2 separate regions of the Homo sapiens genome follow, and region 1 is linked to region 2. Evidence: fine-mapped expression QTL. A gene starts in region 2. The other region holds a variant in brackets. All regions are shown on one strand. Distances are from middle to middle. Region 1 overlaps BCKDHA (branched chain keto acid dehydrogenase E1 subunit alpha). Region 2 holds the start of TMEM91 (transmembrane protein 91).

The links. PIP is the estimated chance that this variant, and not a neighbour inherited with it, causes the effect.
Region 1: its variant is fine-mapped to the expression of TMEM91 in whole blood (TOPMed, PIP above 0.99).

What each region holds. Positions count from the first base shown.
Region 1 is chr19:41,414,468-41,423,998 of GRCh38, reverse strand. BCKDHA (branched chain keto acid dehydrogenase E1 subunit alpha) reads right to left here. Exons shown (of 9, transcript NM_000709.4): 5 at 4,703-4,864; 6 at 1,629-1,835; 7 at 1,229-1,370; 8 at 830-1,001. Among named protein-coding and RNA genes, the nearest start is that of B3GNT8, 8.1 kb to the left of the region's middle. The variant G/A (reference allele first, on the strand shown) is at 4,710.
Region 2 is chr19:41,369,217-41,384,613 of GRCh38, reverse strand. TMEM91 (transmembrane protein 91) reads right to left here and starts at 8,081. Exons shown (of 4, transcript NM_001098821.2): 1 at 7,760-8,081; 2 at 6,095-6,333; 3 at 1,693-1,842; 4 at 531-899. The coding sequence starts at 6,304. The coding sequence ends at 741. RefSeq lists an enhancer at 185-684 and silencers at 4,588-4,761, 7,836-7,965.

The DNA of each region.
Region 1 (9,531 bases), 42 kb before region 2:
TTTTTTAAGAGATAGTCTTGCTCTGTTGCCCAGGCTGGAGTGCAGTGGCGCCATCTCCAATCACTGCAAGTTCCACCTCCCGGGTTCAAGCGATTCTTCTGCCTCACCTTCCTGAGTAGCTGGGACTACAGGCACGCACCACCACGCCTGGCTAATTTTTTTTTTTGAGATGGAGTCTTGCTCTCGTTGCCCAGGCTGGAGTGCAATGGTACGATCTCAGCTCACTGCAACCTCTACCTCCCAGGTTCAAGCAATTCTCCTGCCTCGGCCTCCCAAGTAGCTGGGATTACAGGCACCCGGCACCATGCCCGGCTAATTTTTGTATTTTTATTAGAGACGAGGTTTCACCATGTTGGCCAGGCTGGTCTCAAACTCCCGACCTCAGGTGATCTGTCCGCCTTGGCCTCCCAAAGTGCTGGGATTACAGGCGTGAGCCACTGCGCCCAGCCCTAATTTTTGTATTTTTAGTAGAGACAGGGCTTGACCATGTTTGGCCAGGCTGTTCTCAAGCTCCTGACCTCAAGTGATCTGCCACCTCGGCCTCCCAAAGTGCTGGGATTACAGGTGTGAGCCACCATGCCCAGTCTCAAACCAGTTTCTGAAATGGGCACCACCAGCATCCCCTTTCAAAGACAAGGAAGTGGAGGGCAACATGCCAAGGACACAGAGCCAGGACACACATGGCCCCAGCAGCCTGGCTCCACAGGCCACATCTGAGACATCACTGGGGTTATCCCTGAGCCTCCCAGTTCGGTGTTCCACAAATCCTTCCCAAGCTCTGCAGGCCGCAGCAGCCCCCAGCACACCCTCCCGGGCGGGGCACCCTCACCTTCCTGCGGGACTGCTTCCTCCAGGCCTTCTCCTGCTCCTCATCCCACCAGCCTTGGCTCAGCAGATAGTGCCGCAGCCGGGAGATGGGGTGGTCCTGTTTATCCCAGTAATTGACCTCATCCACCGAGCGGTACGCTGAACTGTCGTCACTGGTGCTGTGGTGCCCGATCCTGCACAGGGGCAAGGGGCCCCAGGTCAGTGTGGGCTCCCTGGAGTGGGGGTCAGGAGGGAGGATGGGGGATGAACTAGGGAAGGAGGAGTGGAAACGGAATAAAGGCAAGGGGGAGATGCAACATCAGGTGATAAGGCCATGTTTTGGAGACAGTGATCGATATGAGGAAGATGCTACGGTGGCTGTCAGTGCTGTGGGGGTGCTGACGGGGGGAGCGGCAGGCACCTGTAGGTCATGGCCTCGATGAGGAAGGGCTGGTTCTCTGCCACAGCCCGCCGTCGGGCCTCCTTTGTGGCGTTGTATACGGCAAACACATCATTACCATCCACGCGGATTGACATGATGCCATACCCGGGGCCTCGTGCTGCTGTGGGGACACAGAGAAGGCAGGTCAGGCCAGGGCTGAGATAAGGAACATGCACGAGGCCAAGGGGACGAGCAGGGAGAGGACAGAGAGCAAGGCTGAGTGCTCAGGACCTCAACTCCTGTGGCTGACCAAGTGCCAGACGCCACAGGACACAGGACGAGAACCAGGAAGGAGGGTAGGGGTGGCAGGAAGGTGGCAGGATTGGGGAGGGAAGGAGATGATCCCAGCGGGGTGGGGAGCAGCCAGCAGAGCCCATACCAATGCCATCGCCGCGATACTGCTCAGAGGTGGGCGTGGAGATGGCGTAGCCATTGTTCCGGCAGAAGAAGATGATGGGGCACTCAAGTGTGGCAGCGAAGTTGAAGCCGGCATGGGCGTCCCCCTCACTGGCTGCCCCCTCGCCGAAGTAACAGATGACGACCCTGTTGGCATTGGCCCGCTTGGCTGCGTACGCCGCCCCCACCGCTGCAGGGGATGAGAGGGTGGTGAGCAGGGGCGGAGACTCACATGCACTCACACTCATTCACACTCACATGACCCACGGCTCAAGCGTGGCTCAGGCCAGCAGTCACCAGGCTTCAAGGGGAAAGGAAACACCTCAGCTCCTGATGCCCCCCAGCATCTGCCCACCCAGGTCTCCTCTTGCTCAGCTGAAAGCAACTCCACCCTTCCAACTGCTCAGGCTGAAGAGTCCAGTATCATCTCCAAGCCAAACTTCCCGCCATTCTCCACATCTACTCCACCTTCAGAACCTAACCCCTCTTACCTCCTCCTCTGCACCACCCTGGTCAAGCCCAAGTTACTGAGCAGCCTCCTTACTAGCCCTTCACACACTGCCCAATCCCTTATCCACAGGGCAGCCCGCGGATTCCATGAAGAGGTGAGCCAGGCCAAGGAAGAGCAGACTCCTCCCCACCCACGGCTCCTGTCCCACTTTGAGTAAAAGTCGACATCCCTGCAACAGGCAAAGGCCTTGAGGCCCCACCCAACCTGCACCATCTGCACCCCCACCCACCACCTCCTGGACTTTACCTCCAACCACCCCACACCTGCTCACCCTACACCCGCTCACTCCACACCTGCTCACTCCACACCTGCCCCTCTGGGCTCCTCCCAGCTCCTCAAACACGCCAGGCTCACACCTGCCTCAAGACACCACACAGCTCCCCCCTCACATCCTCTGGTCCATACTTCAGTGTCACTCCAGTGACGGACCCCAGCCACCCCTACAGTGCACCACACCCGGCTGGCTTGGCTGCTCCCTACAGGACCCCCACCCTCATATACTCCAGGAGTTCCCTCTCCATCTCTGTTACTGTCCGTCTCCCCCACCACAATGGCAGCACCAGGAGGGCTGAGGTTTGCGTTGCTTTTGTTCCCTGCACTTGGAGTGGCACCGGCACATGGCAGGAACTTCGTGTATTTGAAGTGACTTAGCAGGGACCCAGAGGGAAGGTTAGGGCCACGCCCCAGCCTTGTGGAAACCCTATTACCTTTAGCTCAAATGCCCCCTAAATGCCCCCTCCTCTGAGAAAGCTTCCCTGCCCACCTCCCACCTAAGAGGCTCAAACTGCTTCTTGTTCCTCAACAAAAGAACACTATGAGCTAAGGGGTGTGGAGCCTCCTGCTGTGCTGGGCACAGTGCTGAGGCCTGGAGAGACACAAACTCATGCATCTCAGCTGCCCTAGGGCAAAGAAGCCAGGGCCCAGACCAACCCTAGATCAGGCTACAGGCCCCGGAGGACAGGAAGGGGCTCCGATTCCTTGTTCTCCACACTATGAGGGTGCAGGCCTGGCACCCAGTGGGTTTGCTTCCCAAAAAAGCTCTTATAAGGGAAGGGACTTCAGGGCACCTACGGTAAGCTTTGGGGAAGCTTACTTGACTCTGAGGACTGAGGCAGACAAAGGTCAGGGCCAAGAACCCAGGCTCTGGAGGTACACAGTCAATGACTTGAGTCCCTGCTCCTCTCCCTCTGTGCCACATGACCGTTAGCGAGTGACTTCCCTCTTTGACTTCAATTTCCTTTTTTTTTTTTTTGAGACAGGATCTCACTTTGGCTAGAGTGCAATGGCACGATCTCAGCTCACTGCAAACTCTGCCTCCCAGGTTCAAGCAATCCTCCTGCTTCAGCCTCCTGAGTAGCTAGGATTACAGGTGTGCACCACCATGCCAAGCTAATTTTTGTATGTTTAGTAGGGACAGGGCTTTGCCATGTTGGCCAGGCTCCTGCACTTTTTTTTTTCCCATTCACTTGCTGTCTCTCACACACACACAAAACACGGGCATCCTGCTCTTGAAAACAGGAACAAGAGCAAATAATAACCTCTGTCCCCATGGCCACAATGAGGGTCCTTATTAGATGATGAACGTGAAGCATTGGCACAGTGGAACCTGGTGCACACGTTGGCTATGTTTGTGAGCAGACAAATGCAGTAGGCATGTGGTTGGGAAATCCAGAGTGTGGTCACACAGGCTTCAGGCCCCTGAATGGGGTGGGGACAGCAACAGAGCCCTCTTCTGAAGGGTCCCAGACAAGAGGTGCATTCAAAGTCTGGAACACAGGCCAGGTGCAGTGGCTCACATCTGTAATCCCAGCACTTTGAGAGGCCAAGGTGGGCAGATCACTTGAACTCAGGTTCAAGACCAGCCTGGCCAAAATGGTGAAACCTTATCTCTACAAAAAATACAAAAATTTAGCCAAGCACAATGGCATATGCCCATAATCCCAGCTACTCAGGAGGCTAAGGCAGGAGAATCACTTGAGCCTGGGAGGTGGAGGTTACAGTGAGCCGAGATTGCACCATTGCACTCCAACCTGGCTGACGAGAGTGAAACCCCGTCTCAGACCAAAAAAAAAAAAAAAAAAAAAAAAAAAAAAAAAGTGGGCTGGGCACAATGGCTTAAACGCCTGTAATCCCAGCACTTTGAGAGGCTGAGGCGGGTGGATCACCTGAGGCCGGGAGTTTGAGACCAGCCTGGCCAACACGGTGAAACCCTGTCTCTATTAAAAATACAAAAATTAGCTGGGCGTGGTGGTGCACACCTGTAGTCTCAGCTAATCGGGAGGCTGAGGCAGGAGAATTGCTTGAAGCTGGGAGAAGGAGGCTGCAGTGAGCTGCGATAGCACCACTGCACTCTAGCCTGGGCAACAGTGCAAGACTCCGTCTCAAAAAAGAAAAAAATAAGAAGAAGAAGTCTGGAGCACAGACCAGGGCTCTAGTGGTGTCACCAACCCAGAATTCCACCCAGAAGGCAGGCAAAAGAGCTGAGGCCTGGACAGGGGTGTGACATTGGTCTGCACATGTGCAAGGTACAGGGCATGCATCCTCACCCTGAGG[G/A]ATCTGCGTGGCCAGTGGAGAGGAGATAGTGACGAAGTGGCGTTCCTTGCAGCCGTAGTGGACAGGCATCTGGCGCCCCTTGCCCAAGTCACTGATGTTGCCATAGCACTGGGCCATGAATAGTTCCAGGGGGTAGTCCCGATACATCAGCACACCTAGGAGGGGAGGAGGCAATGGTTAGCCGAGTGGGCAGTACAGGGGGACAGTTCAGCCCTGTGGGTGACCTGCAGCATGCTGGCAGGCAGACAGGAAAGCTCAGGCTTGTTTTAAGAGGAAGACTGATGTTCAGACTGACTGACTCTGCCCAGCAAGGCCAATCTGATTTTTCAAAAGAAAGCAGAAATCTAGCCTTTTTCTTTCTTTCTCTTAGTGAGATATTGTCTGGTATTTAAGTGCTTTCAACTAATTCAATTACCTTTAAGAAATATTCTAACCATAAATCATTACTATGGCCAGGCATGGTGGTTCATGCCTGTAATCCCAGCACTTTGAGAGGCTGACGTTGGAGGATCGCTTGAGCCCAGGAGTTGGAGACCAGCCTGAGCAACATGGTGAGGCCTCGCTTCTACAAAAAAAAAAAAAAATCAAAACATTAGCCAGGCATGGTGATGTGTGCCTGTGGTTCCAGCTACTTGGGAGGCTGAGGCAGAGGATTGCTTCAGCCCAGAAGTTCAAGGCTGCAGGCAGCTGAGATCGTGCCACTGCACTCCAATCTGGGCTACAAAGCAAGACCCTGTCTCGAAAAAAAAAAAAAATCATCATTATGAACCAAATAACAGCATAGACCACTAATTTACAACTTCTGGACTACAGAAGTACTCTAACCCATGTATGGCAGTAAAACCTTTTCTTCAAACAAAACCTCTGGTGAACACCCACCTCCCCATCAAAGGGAACCGCTCCAGGTTAAGGGGGCCCTTCCTCCGAAGTTAGAAGACAGAAGGGGGTTTGTGATTGCCCTCAGACAAGCTCTTTGCCCCGCCTGAAGAGTGGGACAACCTTCACACCAACACTTTAGGGGCAGCGCTGTGGATCAATGCTGCAAGCACTCAGACCGGGAACATTATTCAGAGGGAGCTCTCTAGTACAGTGCTTTCCAAATCCTTTCTTTACCGCAGAACCCGCTCTTTAGATACAAATTTAATGGAGATCACATTACACACAGCAGTTACCTTTTTTTTTTTTTTTTTTTTTTTTTGAGACAGAGTCTGGCTTGGCCACCCAGGCTGGAGTGCAGTGGCGCAATCTGAGCTCACTGCAACCTCCACCTTCCAGGTTCAAGCAATTCTTATGCCTCAGCCTCCCAGATAGCTGGGATTCCAGGTGTGCACCACTAGATCTACCTAATTTTCTTTCTTTTTTTTTTTTTGAGACGGAGTTTTGCTCTTGTTGCCCAGAATGCAATGGCGCAATCTTGGCTCACTGCAACCTCTGCCTCCTGGGTTCAAGCGATTCTCCTGCCTCAGCCTCCTGAGTAGCTGGGATTACAGGCATGTGCCACCACATCCAGCTAATTTTTGCATTTTCAGGAGAGACGGGGTTTCTCCATGTTGGTCAGGCTGGTCTCAAACTCCCGACCTCAGGTGATCCACCCACCTCAGCCTCCCAAAGTGCTGCAATTACAGGTGTGAGCCACCACGCCCAGCCCACTTGTTGATATTTTAGTTAGAGTTGAGGGTGGTTAGCACTACTTCAACATCCAACTTTAATACAGGTTTACTGGTATTTTCTGACACATGCTTTTGAATGGACATAATACAAATCCACACAAGATGTGGCTGTGCTGCATATGTAACAGATAGAAACAGGAGTTGCTCTGGTTAAGGAGGGAAAGAAAGGTCTTGTAGAGGGTCAAAGAAGGTCCAAGGGACTGATACAGGACCTTGGAATCAGGCTTTCTCAGAATGTGGTACTAGGTCCACCCATGTGAGAAGGACTGGGCAGGGGCAGGGGAACGTGCTAAAAGTACAAACTTGTCAGGCTCAGTGGCTCGTGCCTGTAATCCCAGCACTTTGGAAGGGTGAGGCAGGTGGACTGCTTGAGCTCAGGAGTTTGAGACCAGCCTGGGCAACACAGCGAAACCCCGTCTCTACCAAAAATCAAAAAAAAAATTAGCCAGGTGTGGTGGCGTGCACCTGTGGTCCCAGCTATTCAGGGGGCTGAGGTGGGAGGATCACTTGATCCTAAGAGGCAGAGGTTGCAGTGAGCCGAGATCATGCCACTGCACTTCAACCTGGGTGACAGAGTAAGACCCCGTCTTGAAGAAAAAAGAAAATACAGACTCACAGGCTGATTTGCACCAGGAAACTCCAGGTCCAGTGGGAACTGCTGCTCTTGCTTGACACATGCTACCTCTTTTCTTGTTGGTCTCAGAGACAGGATCTTACTCTGTCACCCAAACTGGAGTTCGGTGGTGGAATCATAGCTCACTGCAGTCTTGAACCTCTGGGCTCAAGCAATCCTCCCACTCAGCTTCCTGAGTAGCTGGGACTACAGGTGTGCACCACCACGCCTGGCTAATTTTTTAATTTTTTAGAGATGGGGGTCTCGCCATGTTGCCCAGGCTGGTATCAAACTCCTGGGCTCAAGCAATCCTCCCGCCTCAGCCTCCCGAAGTGCTGGGATTACAGGCGTGAGCCACCACACCTGGCACGTGCTTCCTCTTAACACTCCTTTTCACCGGGCGCCACTCCCTGCCAGTGCCACCACTGATACTCCACATATAGCCCTGGGAAGACAGCCAAGGGTGGGAAACAGCGAGAGCTGTCTCTGGGTCAGACTGCCATAAAAAGACTCGGCTCCACTCCTTAGGAGAATGTGGCCTGGGCCCATGACCTCACCTTTGTTGACTCAGGTTCTTACCTGGCTTTTAGAGTTGATGGTAATGCTTGCCTCTCCTGCCTCACATGGATGGGGGAGGTGCCTCAATGAGGCAACACCACTGGGGCCTGCCCTAACCTCACCCGGTGTGCCCTCGCTCTGCAGTGCAGTGAGGGGAAATGACAGTCTCCGAGGCTAAAGAGCACATATAACAGCACCTTGGCTGGCCCGGCGCGGTGGCTCATGCCTGTAATCCCCAGCACTTTGGGAGGCCAAGGCAAACGAATCACTTGAGGTCAGGAGTTTGAAACCAGCCTGACCAACGTGGTGAAACCCCATCTCTACTAAAAATACAAAAATTAGCCAGGCATGGTGGTGCATGCCTTTAATTCCAGCTACTCCGGAGTCTGAGGCAGGAGAATCACCTGAACCTGGAAGGCAGAAGTTGCAATGAGCCAAGACTGCGCCACCGTACTCCAGCCTGGGCGACAGAGTGAGACTCCACCTCAAAAAAAAAAAAAAAGGCCAGGCATGGTGGCTCACGCCTGTAATCCCAGCACTTTAGGAGGTGGAGGAGGGCGGATCGCAAGGTCAGGAGATCAAGACCATCCTGGCTAACATGGTGAAACCCGCCTCTACTAAAAATACAAAAAATTAGCCAGGCATGGTGGTGGGCGCCTGTAGTCCCAGCTACTCGGGAGGCTGAAGCAGGAGAATGGCGTGAACCCAGGAGGTGGAGCTTGCAGTGAGCCGAGATCGCGCCACTGCACTCCAGCCTGGGCAACAGAGCGAGATTCCATCTCAAAAAAAAAAAAGGAGAAGAAAAAAAGAACAGCACTCTGGTGTCAAGAGCCCAGGGAGGCACTACCTATCATGATGAACACCACTCTTCTCACTTCACAGACGACAGACAGCGTCACCAAGGTGAGTGGCCTGCCAAGTGAAGTCTAGAGTGGATGTGACTCAACTCCTTACCCTGCACCATGCTGCCTCTGCATGAGTCCCATTTGCAGCTGCCCAGACACTTCTGCTGACCCTCAGTGCTGGACAGTCATTCTTGCAGAGGCGGCCAGCTCTCCCATGTGGAGAGCTCAGCGGCTCCCATGATTCCCATGAGGCTTGCTCGGTCCTGCCTGGTGCCCTCACAAGAGAACCCTTCAGCAAAAACAGGTGCAGTGCTCAGCACAGCTGGCGGGGGCCCAGCTTGCTGCCTGGTGTCTGGAAATCTTTTTCCGCACGGATGACACTAGACCTTAGACAAACACCACAGGGCGTTTGCCCTCCTAGAGCATGTGGGGCCAAGGGCCTGGTCCAGCTGTGAGCAGTAGACAGTCCAGGAGCAGGCTGCAAGCCATGCTGGTCCATGGGGGCTCTGGACAGCCACGTGGTCTGGCCCTGCTGAAGGGCTGTCCCAGGGCGAGTCCCCGATCATGACACCAACCCCTGGCCCTGAGCGCTTACTCTGTGCTGAGGGCACTTTGCCAACTGCCCCAAGACTGCCCTCAACAGCTGTCTTGGGAAGGGCTACCATCCCCCTTACGAATGAGGAAACAGAGGCACAGGGCAGTTAAGCAACTTGCCCCAAGCATCTAAGACAAAGGGTTAAGATATGCCTTCCTGGCCCTATCAGTGCTCGCTGACACTCTGAGGGTAGTCCCCATGCAGGGCCCCACACCAACAAGCTCCCTGGAAGACCCCACTCACTGCTCCCTGGGCTCACTCCTTCGCTCCCAGGCACTCATTCCTGCTCAATGATTTTCTTCATTCCTGGTCTTTGACCCTTCCTTCCTTTCACTCATCTGGGCTTGCCGGGCCCCTCTAATCTTGCACCGCACTCAGGTCTGTCAAGGTTCTTCCACCTGCTCCTGCTCCCCGAAGGATACAGCACCTGAGGAGGGGCCAGGGGATCACTGCACCAGGCAGACAGGGTCTCCTGCACAGGCCACACCCACAGCGAACGTTGACTTCACTGCATCCTCCCAGCGACCCTTGGATGCAGGTA
Region 2 (15,397 bases):
AAACTCAGCTCTCTCCAGTTCTCTGCTAACCACCCATATTGGGATGAGAACATCCTGCTGTTTAGAAACCACCAGGCATGGTCGCTCATGCCTGTAATCTCAGCTCTTTGGGAGACCGAGGCGGGAAGATCAGTTGAGCCCAGGAGTTTCAGACCAGCCTGGGCAATATAGTGATACCTTGTCTTTACAAAAAAATTTTTTTAATTAGCTGGGTGTGGTGGCAGGTGCCCGTAGTCCCGGCTACTTGGGAGGCTCCTGGGCTCAATCAGGATGATTGCTTGAGCCCAGGAGTTCAAGGCTGCAGTGAGCCATGATTGTGCCACAGCACTCCAGCATGGGCAACAGGGAGACCATCTCTCAAAAAACAAAAAAAACCCGAAAATCCTCTTCCCCCTTTTCCAGCTCAGGTCTCAGGGAGCAAGCACCCTGGGGATGCCCACCACAGCCCGTCACCCTGACCAGTCAGTCCCCTGTTGGTCTCAAGCACCCCCACCCCCTTCCATCCTCCCACACACGCGAACAGACTCTGGTTTGGCTGCAAGGGTGTCTGGTGTTTAATCTCAGGTTGCTGCCGCCCGAAGAGCGGTGGCCAGGAAGGGGAAGGGTTCCAGTCCAGCTCGCTCCCGTTTCTAGATGCTCCTGCCGCCGCCGCAGCCTCATCCACCAAGATTCTCCACTCTCTGCCCACAGATTTGCTGGGCTGCCGGCCTCAGGGTTCACAGTGAGGGCTGTAGGGGCAACTAGGGCGGGTCTCGGGAGGCAAGGTAGGCAGCCAGGGTCACCAGGGCAGCCGCATACGTGCACACGCCCAGCCCGACGGCGAGGACCCCCAGCAGGAAGGCACGGCGGGAGGCGGCCCCTGCCCCCTGGATGTCCCCCTTGGCCCAAGCCTTGTTGGTCTGTAGAGGCAGTGGGCAGCAGTGACCCAGGCATCCCCTCAGTCCCAGACCCTTCCCCTGGTCCCTCCCCCACCCAACATACCCATTCATTCATTCATGCATGTATTCCAAAAGCAGATACGTAGCACCTACTATAGGTCAGGCACTGGGGATGCTGAGTGGTTAATAAAAACATTAAAATGGTAAAAAATAATAATAATAATAAATTTTAAAAAATAAATAAAAACATTAAAATGGTATATGCCACTATTCTAACTCATTTGATTCTCACATTGACCCAGAGGTAGCAATTATTCCCACTTTACAGATGAGGAAAGTGAGGCACAGGGAAGTTAAGTGACTTGCCCAAAATCTTGCAGAGAGCTGGGCACCGTGGCTCACGCCTGTAATCCCAGCACTTTGGGAGGCCAAGATGGGAGGATCACTTGAGGTCAGGAGTTCGAGACCAGCGTGGCCAACGTGGTGAAACCCCGTCTTTATTAAAAATTCAAAAATTAGCCAGGCATGGTAGCGCGCGCCTCTAATCCCAGCTACTCAGGAGGCTGGGGCAGGAGAATCACTTGAACCCAAGAGGCAGAGATTGCAGTGAGCCGAGATTGTACCACTGCACTCCAGCCTGGGCGACAAAGTGAGACTCAAAAAAAATCTTGCAGAGAGTGGCAGACTCAGGATTTGAGTTCAGGTTCTCTGGGCTACCTTCCACCTTCCCGCCTCAGGTATATGGCTCTTTGTTTTTGTGGTGCATTTTTCTCTTTTATGCCCAGTCCCCTCCAAGTCCCACACACAGACTGACCTTCTGGGCTAGACAGAAGGCAGCGATGCCAACGGGCCAGAAACAACACAGCATGGAGAAGACAGCCAAGCCGAGGTGGTCGTGGGGTAGAAATGGTGAAAGACGGCTGCCTCCATCCCAGTCCGAGTCACTGTCACTGGATGACATGTCCTACGGACAGGAAAGTGCCCAGGTGGGCATCTCCATCCACCTTTCCTGCCCCATTGCTCTGCTCTCCATAGCCCTCAAAGGCCAATACCTGCCCCTAGGGCTTCCCCAGAGATACAAAGAGAAAAAAGTGTTCAGAGATGGGCTTTCGGTGTTTGTTTGAGACGGAGTTTTGCTCTGTCACCCAGGCTGGGGTACAATGGCACAGTCTCGGCTCACTGCCTCCCGGGTTCAAATGATTCTCCTGCCTCAGCTTCCCGAGTAGCTGGGATTACAGGCACACGCCATCACACCTGGCTAATTTTGTATTTTTAGTAGAGATGGGGTTTCACCATGTTGGCCAGGATGGTCTTGAACTCCTGACCTCAGGTGATCCACCCGTCTTGGCCTCCCAAAGTGCCAGGATTACAGGCATGAGCCACCACACCTGGCCAGAGATGGGCTTTTGACATTTGTATCCTGGAGCCCTTTGAAGGGAAGTTGTGGATCAGGTCTCCAGAGAAGAGCCCCACCCACACCCAGAGTTTTCAGTTCATTTTCAAGGGGTTGACGGATCCAATCATGGACGCTACAATTGCTTACAATCTCTGAGTGAAAAGCCCCCGCATGGCCGGGCGTGGTAGCTTGCACCTGTAATCCCAGCACTTTGGGAGACCGAGGTGGGTGGATCACCTGAGGTCGAGAGTTGGGAGACCAGCCTGGCCAACATGGTGAAACCTCATCTCCACTAAAAATACAAAAATTAGCCAGGCGTGGTGGTATGCCCCTGTAATCCCAGCTACTTAGGAGGTTGAGGCAGGAGAATCACTTGAACCCAGGATGTGGAGGTTGCAGTGAGCTGAGATCGAGCCACAGCACTCCAGCCTGGGCAATAGAGTGAGACTCCATCTCAAAAAAAGAAAAGCCCCTGAGCAGGGACAAACACCACTGAAACAAGGAACCTGCAAAAAGATGGAGATTATTGGCCGGGCACAGTGGCTCACACCTGTCATCCCAACACTTAGGGAGGCCAAGGCGGGAGGATCATTTGAAGCCAGGAGTTTGAGACCAGCCTGGGCAATACAGCAAGACCCCATCTCTACAAAAAAAAATTTAAAATTAGCTAGGCATGGGCCAGGCTCAGTGGCTCACGCCTGTAAGCCCAGCACTTTGGGAGGCCAAGGCAGGCGGATCATGAGGTCAGGAGATCGAGACCGTCCTGGCTAACACAGTGAAACCTCGTCTCTACTAAAAATACAAAAACAAAATTAGCCGGGTGTGGTGGCACACACCTGTAGTCCCAGCTACTCTGGAGGCTGAGGCAGAAGAATGGCATGAACCCGGGAGGCAGAGCTTGCAGTGAGCCGAGATTGCGCTACTGCCCTCCAGCCTGGGCGACAGAGTGAGACTCCATCTCAAAAAAAAAAAAAAAAAAAATTAGCTAGGCATGGTGTCTTGTGCCTGTAGTCTCAGCTACTTTGGGAGGCTGAGGCAGGAGGATGGCTTGAGCCCAGCAGTTTGAGACTCCAGTGAGCTATGATCACATGTCTGCCCCCCAGCCTGAGCAACGGAGCAAGAAGACCCTGTCACTAATAAATAAATAAATAAAAGATGGAGATTATAAAATGCTCCAGTGGCCTAAATGATTAGGGCAAACCTGCCTGCTGAAAACTCTAGAGTTTAGATTTTTAAGCTTTTTTTTTTTTTTTTTTTTTTTTTGAGACAGAGTCTTGCCCAGGCTGGAGGGCAGTGGCTCAATCTCAGCTCACTGCAACCTCCATCTCCCAAGTTCAAGCAATTCTCCTGCCTCAGCCTCCCAAAAGCGGGGATTACAGGCACCCACCACCACGGCCAGCTAATTTTTTTTTTTTTTTTTTTTTTTGAGACAGAGTTTCACTCTGTTGCCCAGGCTGGAGTGCAATGGCGTGATCTCGGCTCACTGCAACCTCCGCCTCCCAGGTTTAAGTGATTCTCCTGCCTCAGCCTCCCGAATAGCTGGGATTACAGGTGTGCACCACTACACCTGGCTAATTTTTGTATTTTTTCTTTAGTAGAAACTGGGTTTCACCATGTTGGCCAGGCTGGTCTCGAACTCCTGACCTCGTGATCCGCCCGTCTCAGCCTCCCAAAGTGCTGGGATTACAGGCGTGAGCCACCGCGCCTGGCCTAATTTTTGTATTTTTAGTAGAGACGGGCTTTCCCTACATTGGTCAGGCTGGTCTTGAACTCCTGACCTCAAGCAATTAACTTGTCTTGGCCTCCCAAAGTGCTGGGATTACAGGCATGAGCCACAGCGCCCGGCCCCACATGCTTTTCTTACCATGTGACTTTGATATCCTTCCCATCAAGGGATGAGTTCTGTGTCCCCTCCCCTTGAATTTGAGCAGGCTCATGACTCACTTGTAATTAATAGAATGTGGTGGAAGTCATGTTACGTGACTTCCAAAGCGAAATCAGAAAAGGTGAGGCAGCTTCTGCTTTGCTGCAATATTCATGCTGTAGGCTGGAGGTACATAAGCTGCCTGACTGCCCTGAAGCCGTTATGCTGTAAGGAATCCCAAGGCAGCAAACATGGAGAGACCACATAGAAGCCCTAAGACTCGGCTGGGCACGGTGGCTCACGCCTGTAATCTGGCACTCTGGGAGGCTGAGGTGGGTGGATCACCTGAGGTCAGGAGTTTGAGACCAACCTGACCAACATAGTGAAACCCTGTCTCTACTAAAAATACAAAATTAGCTGGGCATGGTGACACATGCCTGTAAATCCAGCTACTCAGGAGGCTGAGGCAGGGGAATTTGCTTGAACCCAGGAGGCGGAGGTTGCAGTGAGCTGAGATTGCACCATTGTACTCCAGCCTGGGCAACAAGGGTGAAACTCCATCTCAAAAAAAAAAAAAAAAAAAAAAAGGAAGCCCTAAGACACCATGAAGAGAGAGAAAAGTGCCCAGCCAGCCCCTGACTGTTCTAGTTCCACCCACCAGCTGAATGCAACCTCAAGAAAGATCCAGAGGCAGAACCATGCAACTAAGTCCCAAATTCCTGACCAACAGAAACCGTAAGAGTTCATCATGATTGTTGCCTGCCTGCCTTCCTTTCTTTCTGCTTTCTCCTTCCTTCCTTCCCTCCTTCCTTTCCTTGTTTCCTTCATTCCTTCTTTCTTCCTTCCTTCTTTCTCTCTTTCTCTCTCTCTTTTCTTTCTTTCCTTCCTCCCTCCCTCCCTCTCTCTTTCTCTCTCTCTCTCTCTCCCCCCTCTCCCTCTCTTTTTCTTTCTTTCTGTCTGTCTTGCTCTGTTGTCCAGGCTGGAGTAAGGTGGTATGATCACAGCTCATTGCAGCCTGGGCTCAAGCGATCCTCCCACCTCAGCCTCCCAAGTAGCTGGTACTACAGGAACACGCCATCACACCTGGCTAATTTTTTTTTTTTTTTTTAAGATGGGGTCTTTCTAATTTTCGGAGGACAAAATGAAAAATTAAATAAAAATAAAGATGGAGTCTCACTAAGTTGCCCAGGCTAGCCTAGAACTCCTGGGCGAGGCAGTCCTCCTGCCTCGCCTTCTCAAAGTGCTGGGATTACCAGTGTGAGCCACTGTGCCTGGCCTGGAATGAGAAATTATAAAAAGTGACAACAGTAACTTAAAAAAAAAAAAAAAAAAAAAAAAGGAAGGCTGGGCATGGTGGCTCACACCTTTAATCCTAGCACTTTGGGAGGCCAAGACAGGCAGATTGCTTGAGCTCAGGAGTTTGAGACCAGCCTGGGCAACATGACAAAACCTCTTCTCTACAAAAAACACCAAAAAATTAGCCAGGCATGGTGGCACATGCCTGTGGTCCCAGCTACTCAGGAGGCTGAGGTGGGAGGATTGCTTAAGCCCGGGAGGTCAAGGTTGCAGTAAACTATGATCGCTCCACTGCACTCCAGCCTGGGCAACAGAGCGAGACCCTGTCTCTCTCTCTCTCTCTCTCTCTCTCTCTCACACACACACACAAAGAGGGAGACAGCAGGGTGGACAAAAGCCAGAGGTGCATGCACTCTGAAGACACCAACCAGCGGAGTCTGAGATCAGAGGGAAGACAGAGCCAAAAGCCAGGCAACAAAGATGAGAGACATAAAACAAGAAGAACCGTAACTGGAAATCTCAGAAGCCCACACACAGCTGGGAAGTGAGACTCCAGGCCTAAGGCAGATCGGCACAGCTGTCAACCTGCCAGATGCTGGCCTTAGTGGGGCTCACCCCAGCCCCCTCCCGTGCCTTCCACTAAGGCCTGCTGTTTCCTACCTCAACATCAGGGGGCCTTGGTTCCCCCAGGCCAGCGCTCACGGAGGGAAGAGGCGGTGACAGGAACTGCAAACCCCTCAGGGACTCGGCAAAGGCTATCTCTCTTAAGGGGGACCCCAGCTCATGCCTGCCAGGCTTCTGGGCAGGGGTCTCACATTCTGTGCCCTCCAGCAGAGGCTGTTGAAGCTCACGAAGACTAGGGCTGTCCATGGCTTTGGGGAAACTCCAGGAGGGGTTTCCTAGGGGTAGGGGGAAGAAAAAGACAAGTTGTAAAAGTCTCACTTCACTCAACCTCTGACCCCTTGCTTTAGAGAGACTCAGGCAGAGACTAGTTAGTGCAGTGGTCCTCAGACCCATTTTACAGATACAGAAGCTGAGGCCCAGAGAGAAAAAAAGATTGGCCTCAGGTTATGAAGAGAACTCAGGGGTCTGGACATTCAATTTTGGGCATTTCTCTCTCTCTCTCTTTTTTTTTTTTTTTTTTGAGACAAAGTCTCCATCTGTTGCCCAGGCAGATCCACCACTGCAGATCCGCTAGAGTGCAGTGGCATGATCTCAGCACACTGCAGCCTCCACCTCCCGGGTTCAAACCATTCTGCCTCAGCCTCCCGAGTAGCTGGGATTACAGGCGCCCACCACCATGCCCGGCTAATTTTTTTTTTTGTATTTTTAGTAAAGATAGGGTTTCACTGTGTTAACCAGGCTGGTCCCGAACTCCTGACCTTAGGGGATCCACCAGCCTTGGCCTCCCAAAGTGCTGGGATTACAGGCGTGAGCCACCGCACCCAGCCAAATTCTGGGCATTTCTCTCAGGCAAAAGCCACATACCCATCACACTTACCCCAATAAGTTGCAGCACCTGTTGCACCATGCCTTACACACTTACCTGCCCCACAAACACCCCCAATATCCATCCCAGGTTCATACCGCGTGACCACCTATCCAGGCCCAGGCACCCCTCCCAGTCACACACACACCCATCCCCTACCCCCAGTGCTGCCTGGAACTGCACTCTAGTCTACATTCCCCATCCTCTGTCCCCTAGACCTGCCCCCCGAAGTCCCCTGCCACACAGCCCCATCTAGGCAAGCCCAGCCTCCACCTCCACACATTCATCTCCCAAAGGACTCCTTGAATATTTGCCCCAAAACATCAGCTCCCAGAAAACACCCCTTTCAGGTCCCCAACCTTCTTACACATTTATCCCAATTGACTCCGTGCACAACCCTACTCCCCACTGCATCACAAACCACAGACACCTGTGCACACACGCACACATGCACCCCGGCACTCTCTCCTATTCTCATGACCTCTGGCATGCCTGCCCCACTCATCAGGCCCAGGCACCCCTGCCCTACTCCACCCACACACCTATGACTCCACACAACTCCCACACATGCACCAGCTCTCCAGAATCCTTTGCACACCTCGCCCCCATAAACACCCTCAACCCCAGCACACACATACACGTACACACGCAACACAACCAGAAAGAATATTCTTCTTCTCGTCCTACGATCCCCCTGGAAGGTCCCCAAGCCTCCTGCCTGCTCATTCCAAACCTTGACTGAGCCGATTTCCTCGCCAAAGCTTTGCCCTCTCATCCCCAACTCCAGGACCCAGGGAAGGGACTGTGACCCCCACCCACCTACGTCCCTCACTCACCGCTCACGATCACAGGCCGGGGCTTCCTGAACCCTCGCAATGACACTTGCCCGGACCCTGCCACCGAGGATCCAAGGGGCGCTGGGACCTTGCGCTTTGCTCTACGCGGGTCTCAGCGCCCCGGGCCCGCTGCGCGCGGGGGCGGGGACGGGGCGGGGCGACGGCTTCCCAGGCTCTGTCCCTCCGCGGCGTCCGGCGAGGGATCCCTGAAAGCCGACGTCAGCGTCCAGGAACGGGTTCCTACGACTCCCGGGGGTCTGGGAGCAGGCGGGAATCCTTGGAGAACTGCAGCCCCTTCCTCGTGAGCCCAGGCCCAAGCTCTGCCGGAGGAGGGGGCACCCCGGATTCTCCAGGGCCTTCCTGGCTTGGCCCCGCCTCCCTTCCCCTTTGCGCAATAATAGCCAATAATAATAACAGCAACAAGGACCGTGCGCCCTGTTCTAAGTGCTTTGCAAATAAACTTACATACACATGTATTCCTCAGCACAACCCTAAGAGGCATAATCGTTTATTGTCCTGTTTCACGCGGGAGGAAACTGGCAAGCCGAGGTTAGGTAAATTGCCTAGGGGTACATCATTGGTTCATTGAGGGCAGACTGTACCCAAGCCCTGTGTTAAACGCTTTACATTCATCATCGCATTCATTCTTCCTCTCAGCTCCGGGTTTTTCTTGTTGTTGTTGTTGTTGTCGCTGCTATTTTACTTTGGTTTTTTTGTTTGTTTTGTTTTGTTTTTGAGACGGAGTCTTGCTCTGTCGCCCAGGCTAGAGTGCAGTGGAGTGATCTCGGCTCACCGCAACCTCCGCTTCCCGGGTTCAAGCGATTCTCCTGCCTCAGCCTCCCGAGTAGCTGGGATTACAGGGGCAAGCCACCACGCCCAGCTAATTTTTGTATTTTTAGTAGATGAGATTTCGCTGTGTTGGTCAGGTTGGTCTTGAACTCCTGACCTCAGGTGATCTGCCCGCCTCAGCCTCCCAAAGTGTTAGGATTACAGGCGTGAGCCACCGCGCCCGGCAGATTTTTTTTTTATTATTATTTTTTAAAAGACGGGGTCTTGCTCTGATCGCCCAGGCTGGAAGGCAGTGGCGCAATCATTGCTCGCTTCAGCCTCAGACTCCTGGGTTCACTGCAGCCTCGGCCTCCCAAAGCGGTGGGATTACAGGTGTGAGTCACCGCGCCTGGCCTATTTTGTTTTGGGGTGTTTTTTTGCGGAGGAGTGCTGAAGGGGTGTTGGCTTGTTTTTAATCCCTGTTTTGCAGATAAAGAAACGGGCTCACGGGCCGGGCGCAGTGGCTCACGCCTGTAATCCCAACACTTTGGGAGGCCGAGGCGGGCGGATCACGAGGTCAGGAGATCCAGACCATCCTGGCTGACACGGTGAAACCCTGTCTCTACTAAAAATACAAAAAATTAGCCGGGCTTGGTGGCGGGCGCTTGTAGTCCCAGCTACTTGGGAGGCTGAGGCAGGAGAATGGCGTGGACCCGGGAGGCGGAGCTTGCAGTGAGCCGAGATCGCGCCACTGCACTCCAGCCTGGGAAACAGCAAGACTCCGTCTCAAAAAAAAAAAAAAAAAAAAAAAAAGAAAAGAAAATAAACGGGCTCACTTGCATGCTCACTTGGCCACAGTAAACAGCTGGTACCAAGCCCAGCATATTGTAACCCCGGGCTGTGTTCCTGTGGCCCTTGCTAAGCCAATGGGTGAGGAGGAAGCAGAGGCAGGTGGGTTAGGAGTTTCTAGGGAAAGAAGGCTGAGGAGTGGGGTCCAGTAGGGGGTGATGCTCTGATTGTCACGTGGTACAGTGATGTTCATGAGTCAGCATTTGGACCCACATAGACCTGGTTTCCTTTCCAGGCTCTTTGTTTGTTTGTTTGAGATGGAGTTTCACTCTTGTTGCCCAGGCTGGAGGGCAATGGCGTGATCTCGGCTCACCGCAACCTCCGCCTCCCAGGTTCAAGCGATTCTCCTGCCTCAGCCTCCCGAGTAGTTAGGATTACAGGAATGCGCCATCACACCTGGCTAATTTTGTATTTTTGGTAGAGATGGGGTTTCTCCATATGAGTCAGGCTGGTCTTGAACTCCCGACCTCAGGTGACCCACCCGCCTCAGCCTCCCAAAGTGCTGGGATTACAGGTGTGAGCCACCATTCCTGGCCCCTTTCCAGGCTCTTTAAGTCACTGAGTGTGTGGCCTCTAGACAATGCCTTCACCTCTCTGAACCCCTATTTCTTCACCTACAAAATGGGGATAATGCTCCTTGCCTCTTATGTGATAACATATGTAGAGTACTTAGAGTTGCTGCAACAACAAATGTCCAACATTGGGAGCCTCTCTGAACCTATTTTGGTTTAGGTGCTGCCTAGGAAATAGAAAAATAAAAAATAAAAAGAACAGATATCCAACATTTATCCAAAGCCTGGCAAAGAAAGCACTCTGAACACATTTGATGGTGTTTATTAATATTATTATTTACATCCATCTCCATCGGACTGATTACAAGACTATCATCGTCTTGCAAGCTTCCACCTCCTTCATGGAGCCTTGTATAGGCCTCCCTTCCCAGAAGCCCTCCGTCTCACCAGACTGGAGGATTCCCTGGCCTTTGTGGGGCCGGAGTTCCCTCGCTCCAGGGCTCCAGGGCTCCTTGCCAAGAGTCCAGATGCTGGCGCTGGCACCGGCCCCACTCCCAGGGAGAACAGATGGCGTCTGCAAGTGCACTTGGCTCAGCCAGTTTCTGGCAGACGACAGAAGCAGGGAGACCCACGGGAGGGTAGACGAGAGCGTGAGGGGGCAGGATTGTTTTACTCAGGAGGGATGCCCTGTTACTTTCTATCTCAACCTTGCTCTCATTCTTTTCATATTTCTATGAAGCATACTGTAGGCCAGGTGCGGTGGCCCACGCCTGTAATCCCAGCCCTTTGGGAGGCCGAGGAGGGAGGACTGCTTGAGCCTAGGAGTTCGAAACCAGCCTGGGCGACATAGCAAAACCCCAGTCAGCAAGGCTGGAGTGCAGTGGCACGATCTCAGGTCACTGCAACCTCCATCTCCTGGGTTCAAGCCATTCTCCCACCTCAGCCTCCCAAGTAGCTGGGATTATAGGAACCTGCCACCATGCCCAGCTAATTTTTGTACTTTTAGTAGAGACGGAGTTTCACCATGTTGCCCAGGCTGGTCTCAAACTCCTGACCTCAAGTGATCTGCCCGCCTTGGCCTCCCAAAGTGCTGGGATTATAGGCGTGAGCCACTGCACCCGGCCTTAAACATACCATGTATTTTTCTTGTTTGTAGTTTGAATCCTCCCACATCAGTGTCGGCACAACAAGGGCTGAGATTTGATCTCGTTTTTTCACTACTGTGCCTCACGGCCTAAAACAGTGCCTGGCACAAAGTGGGTCTTTATTACATATGTGTGGGATGGGGGCATAAATTCCCATCAGCCTCCAGCCTCAGTTTTTCACCAAATCATTGAGCTCTGTGGGTCCCCTCATCCCTCTAGGCCATCCTAGAGATTAATTCACTTCCAGTGAGAGCTCTCTGGCTGCCGTTAGCCTTGTACAGTCTAAGAGGCTACACCTCTTAGTGTTTGTGACAGGTCTGGAATATTAAACATGAGATTCCAGCTGGGTACGGTGGCTCAAGCCTGTAATCCCAGCACTTTGGGAGGCCAAGGTGGGAGGATTACTTAAACCCAAAAGTTCAAGACCAGCCAGGGCAACAAAGTGAAATTTTGTCTCTACAAAAAATAAACAAAATCAGCTGGGTGTGGTGATGCATGTCTGTGGTCCAAGCTACTCGGGAAACTGAGATAGGAGGATTGGTTTAGCCCAGGAGGTGGAGGTTGCAGTGAGCCATGATTGTGCCACTGCAGTCCAGCCTGGGCAACAAAGTGAAACCCAGTCTCAAAAACAAAAACAAAAACAAAAACAAAAGATCACGAGATTCCAGCAAGGATTGTCAACAGAGACTGAAACTATTAAGTTATTGGGTGAAAATCTGATTTGATAAAGAACAGGATATTTATTTAGTCTCAAAGTAGCTTCCCCTAGATTACTTATTATAACAAAAAAAAATTAATGGAGAAAATTGGCAAACATCACGTTAACCAGATGATACAAGTTAATATCACCATTAACAGGACAAATTGACCTTAGTTGCCTCTGGTCTGAAGCAAAGAGGGAGACACATACCATTTCTTTGGTTTTCCTGCCAAAATGCATAACTTAAATCTAATAATAAGAAACATGAGACAAAGCCAAAATGAGGGACACTCTACAAAGGAGGTCGCCTATAACCTTCAAAACATCAATGTTATGAAAAAACAAAGTAATAATAATAAATAACAATAAAATAAAGTGCTGGCCAGGTACAGTGGCTCATGCCTGTAATCCCAGCACTGTAATCCCATGCCTGTAATCCCAGAGGCTGAAGCAGGAGGATTGCCTGAGCCCAGGAGTTCCAGGCCAGCCTGGGCAACACAGTAAGACCCCCATCTCTCCCAAAACTTTTTTTTTTTAAAGGAAGTCTCACTCTGTTGCCCAGACTGGAGTGCAGTGGCGCAATGTCAGCTCACTGCAAATTCTGCCTCCCAGGTTCAAGTGATTCTCCTACCTCAGCCTCCGAGTAGCTGGGATTACAGGCACGCACAACCATGCCCAGCTAATTTTTATATTTTTAGTAGACACAGGTTTTCACCCTGTTGCCCAGGCTGGTCTCGAACTCCTACCCTCAAGTGATCCCCACCCCCGCCCCCTACTGCCTCAGCCTCCCAAAGTGCTGTGATTACAGGCGGGAGCCACTGAGACCACCCTCTCTCTCCAAAACTTAAAAAAAAATTAGCCGAGCACGGTGGCACACACCTGTAGTCCTAGCTACTTGGGAGGCTGAGGTGGGAGGATCACTTGAGTCCAGGAGTGGCTGTGATAGCCACTGCACTATAGTCTGAGTGACAGAGCAAGACTCCAAGTCAAAAAAAGGGGGGTCAGGAAGGAAAAAAATCCTGTTGCATGCTATGACCTGGATGACCCTTGAGGACACTATGCTAAGTGAAATAATCCTGTCATAAGAGGACAAATACTGTAGGATTCCACTTACATGACGTACTTAGAGTAGTCACATTCACAGAGACAGAAAATAAGATAGTGGCCGGGTGCAGTGGCTCATACGTGTGATCTCAGCACTTTGGGAGGCTGAGGCAGGCCGATCACGAGGTCAAGAGATCGAGATCATCCTGGCCAACATGGTGAAACCCCATCTCTACTAAAAATACAAAAACTAGCTGGACTTGGTGGTGTGCGCCTGTAGTCCCAGCTACTCGGGAGGCTGAGGCAGGAGAATCACTGGAACCCAGGAGGTGGAGGTTGCAGTGAGCCAAGATTGTGCCACTGCACTCCAGCCTGGAGACAGAGCAACAGAAAGAAAGAAAGAGAGAGAGAAAGAGAGAGAGAGAAAGGAGGGAGGGAGGGAGGAAGGAAAGAAGGAAGGAAGGAAAGAAGGAAGGAAGGAAGGAAGGAAGGAAGGAAGGAAGGAAGGAAGGAAGGAAGGAAGGAGAGGATAGTGGGCCAGGCATGGTGGTTCACACCTGTAATCCCAGTACTTTGGGAGGCCAAGGCGGGCAGATCACCTGAGGTCAGGAGTTCGAAATCAGCCTGGCCAACATGGCAAAACTCCGTCTCTACTAAAAATACAAAAGTCAGCCGGGCATGATGGTGCATGCCTGTAATCCCAGCTACTCGGGAGGCTGAGGCACAATAATTGCTTGAACCTGGGAGGCAGAGGTTGTGGTGAGCTGAGATCTCACCAGAACACTCCAGCCTGGGTGACAGAGCGAGACCCTGTCTCAAAAAAAATAAAAAACAGGCCAGACACGGTAGCTCACGCCTGTAATCCCAGCACTTTAGGAGGCCGAGGCGGGCTGATCACCTGAGGTCAGGAGTTCGAGTACATCCTGGCCAACATGGTGAAACCCTGTCTCTACTAAAAATACAAAAATTAGCCAGGCGTGGTGACACATGCCTGTAATCCCAGCTACTTGGGAGGCTGAGGCAGGAGAATCCCTTGAAGCCAGGAGGCAGAGGTTACAGTGAACAGAGATCACGTTGCTACACCACAGCCTAGGCAACACAATGAGACTTCCTCTCAAAAAAATAAATAGGTGGCCAGGCACGGTGGCTCACGCTTGTAATCCCAGCACTTTGGGAGGCCGAGGCGGGTGGATCACAAGGTCAGGAGTTCGAGACCAGCGTGGCCAATATGGTGAAACCCCGTCTCTACTAAAAATACAAAAATTAGCTGGACAAGGTGGCACACGCCTGTAGTCCCAGCTGCTCAGGAGGCTGAAGCAGGAGAATCGGTTAAACCCGGAAGGCGGAGGTTGCAGTGAGCTGACACGGTGCCACTGCACTCCAGCCTGGGCAACAGAGCAAGACTCTGTCTCAAATAAATAAATAAATAAATAAATAAATAAAATAAAAATAAATAAATAGGTGGGGCACAGTGGCTCACGCCTATAATCCTAGCACTTTGAGAGGCCGAAGCAGGCAGATCACCTGAGGTCAGGAGTTCGAGACCAGTCTGACCAACATGGAGAAACCCCGTCTCTACTAAAAATACAAAATTAGCCAGGCATGGTGGTGCATGCCTGTAATACCAGTTACTCGGGAGGCTGAGGTGGGAGAATCACTTGAACCTGGGAGGCAGAGGTTGCGTTGAGCTGAGATCATGCCATTGCACTCCAGCATGGGCAGCAAGAGTGAAACTCCATCTCAAAAAATAAATAAATAAATAAAGTAAAATAAATACATTGAAAGAAAATAGGATGGTGATTACCAGGAGCTGCAGAAGAGGGGGGAATAGGGGAGTTGTTTTGTTTCAAAAATGTGTTTACTTTGCAAAAATTTTAGTTTTGCAACATGAAAATGGTTGTGGAGATTGGTTGCACAATGTAAATGTACTTAACACTATTGAACAATACAGTTTTAAACAGTTAAGATGGTAAATGTGTATTTTACCACAATTAAAAGGCTTATTTATTTATTTTTATTTATTTATTTTGAGACAGAGTCTCGCTCTGTCACCCAGGCTGGAGTGCAATGGTGCAATCTCGGCTCACTGCAACCTCCACCTCCTGGGTTCAAGTGATTCTCGTGCCTCAGCCTCCCGAGTAGCTGGGACTACAGGCGCTCGCCACCACGTTCAGCTGATTTTTTTTGTAGTTTTAGGAGGGATGGGGTTTCACCATGTTGGCCAGGCTTGTCTCGAACTCCTGACCTCAAGTGATCTGCCTGCCTCGGCCTCCCAAAGTGCTGGGAATCCAGGCATGAGCCACTGCACCGGGCCTTTTTTTTTTTTTTTTAGAGGTGCAGTCTTACTTTGTTGCCCAGGCTGGAGTGCAGGGTGCCATCATAGCTCACTGCAGCCTGGACTTCCTGCACTCAAGGCATCCTCCGGCTTCAGCCTCCAAAGTAGCCGGGATGGCCAGGCGCGGCCATACATGGCAAAACCCCATCTCTACTAATTAGCTGGGCGTGGCGGCAGGTGCCTTCAATCCCAGCTACTTGGGAGGCTGAGGCAGGAGAATCACTTGAACCCAGGAGGCAGAGGTTGTGGTGAGGAGAGATCACACCATTGCACTCCAGCCTGGGC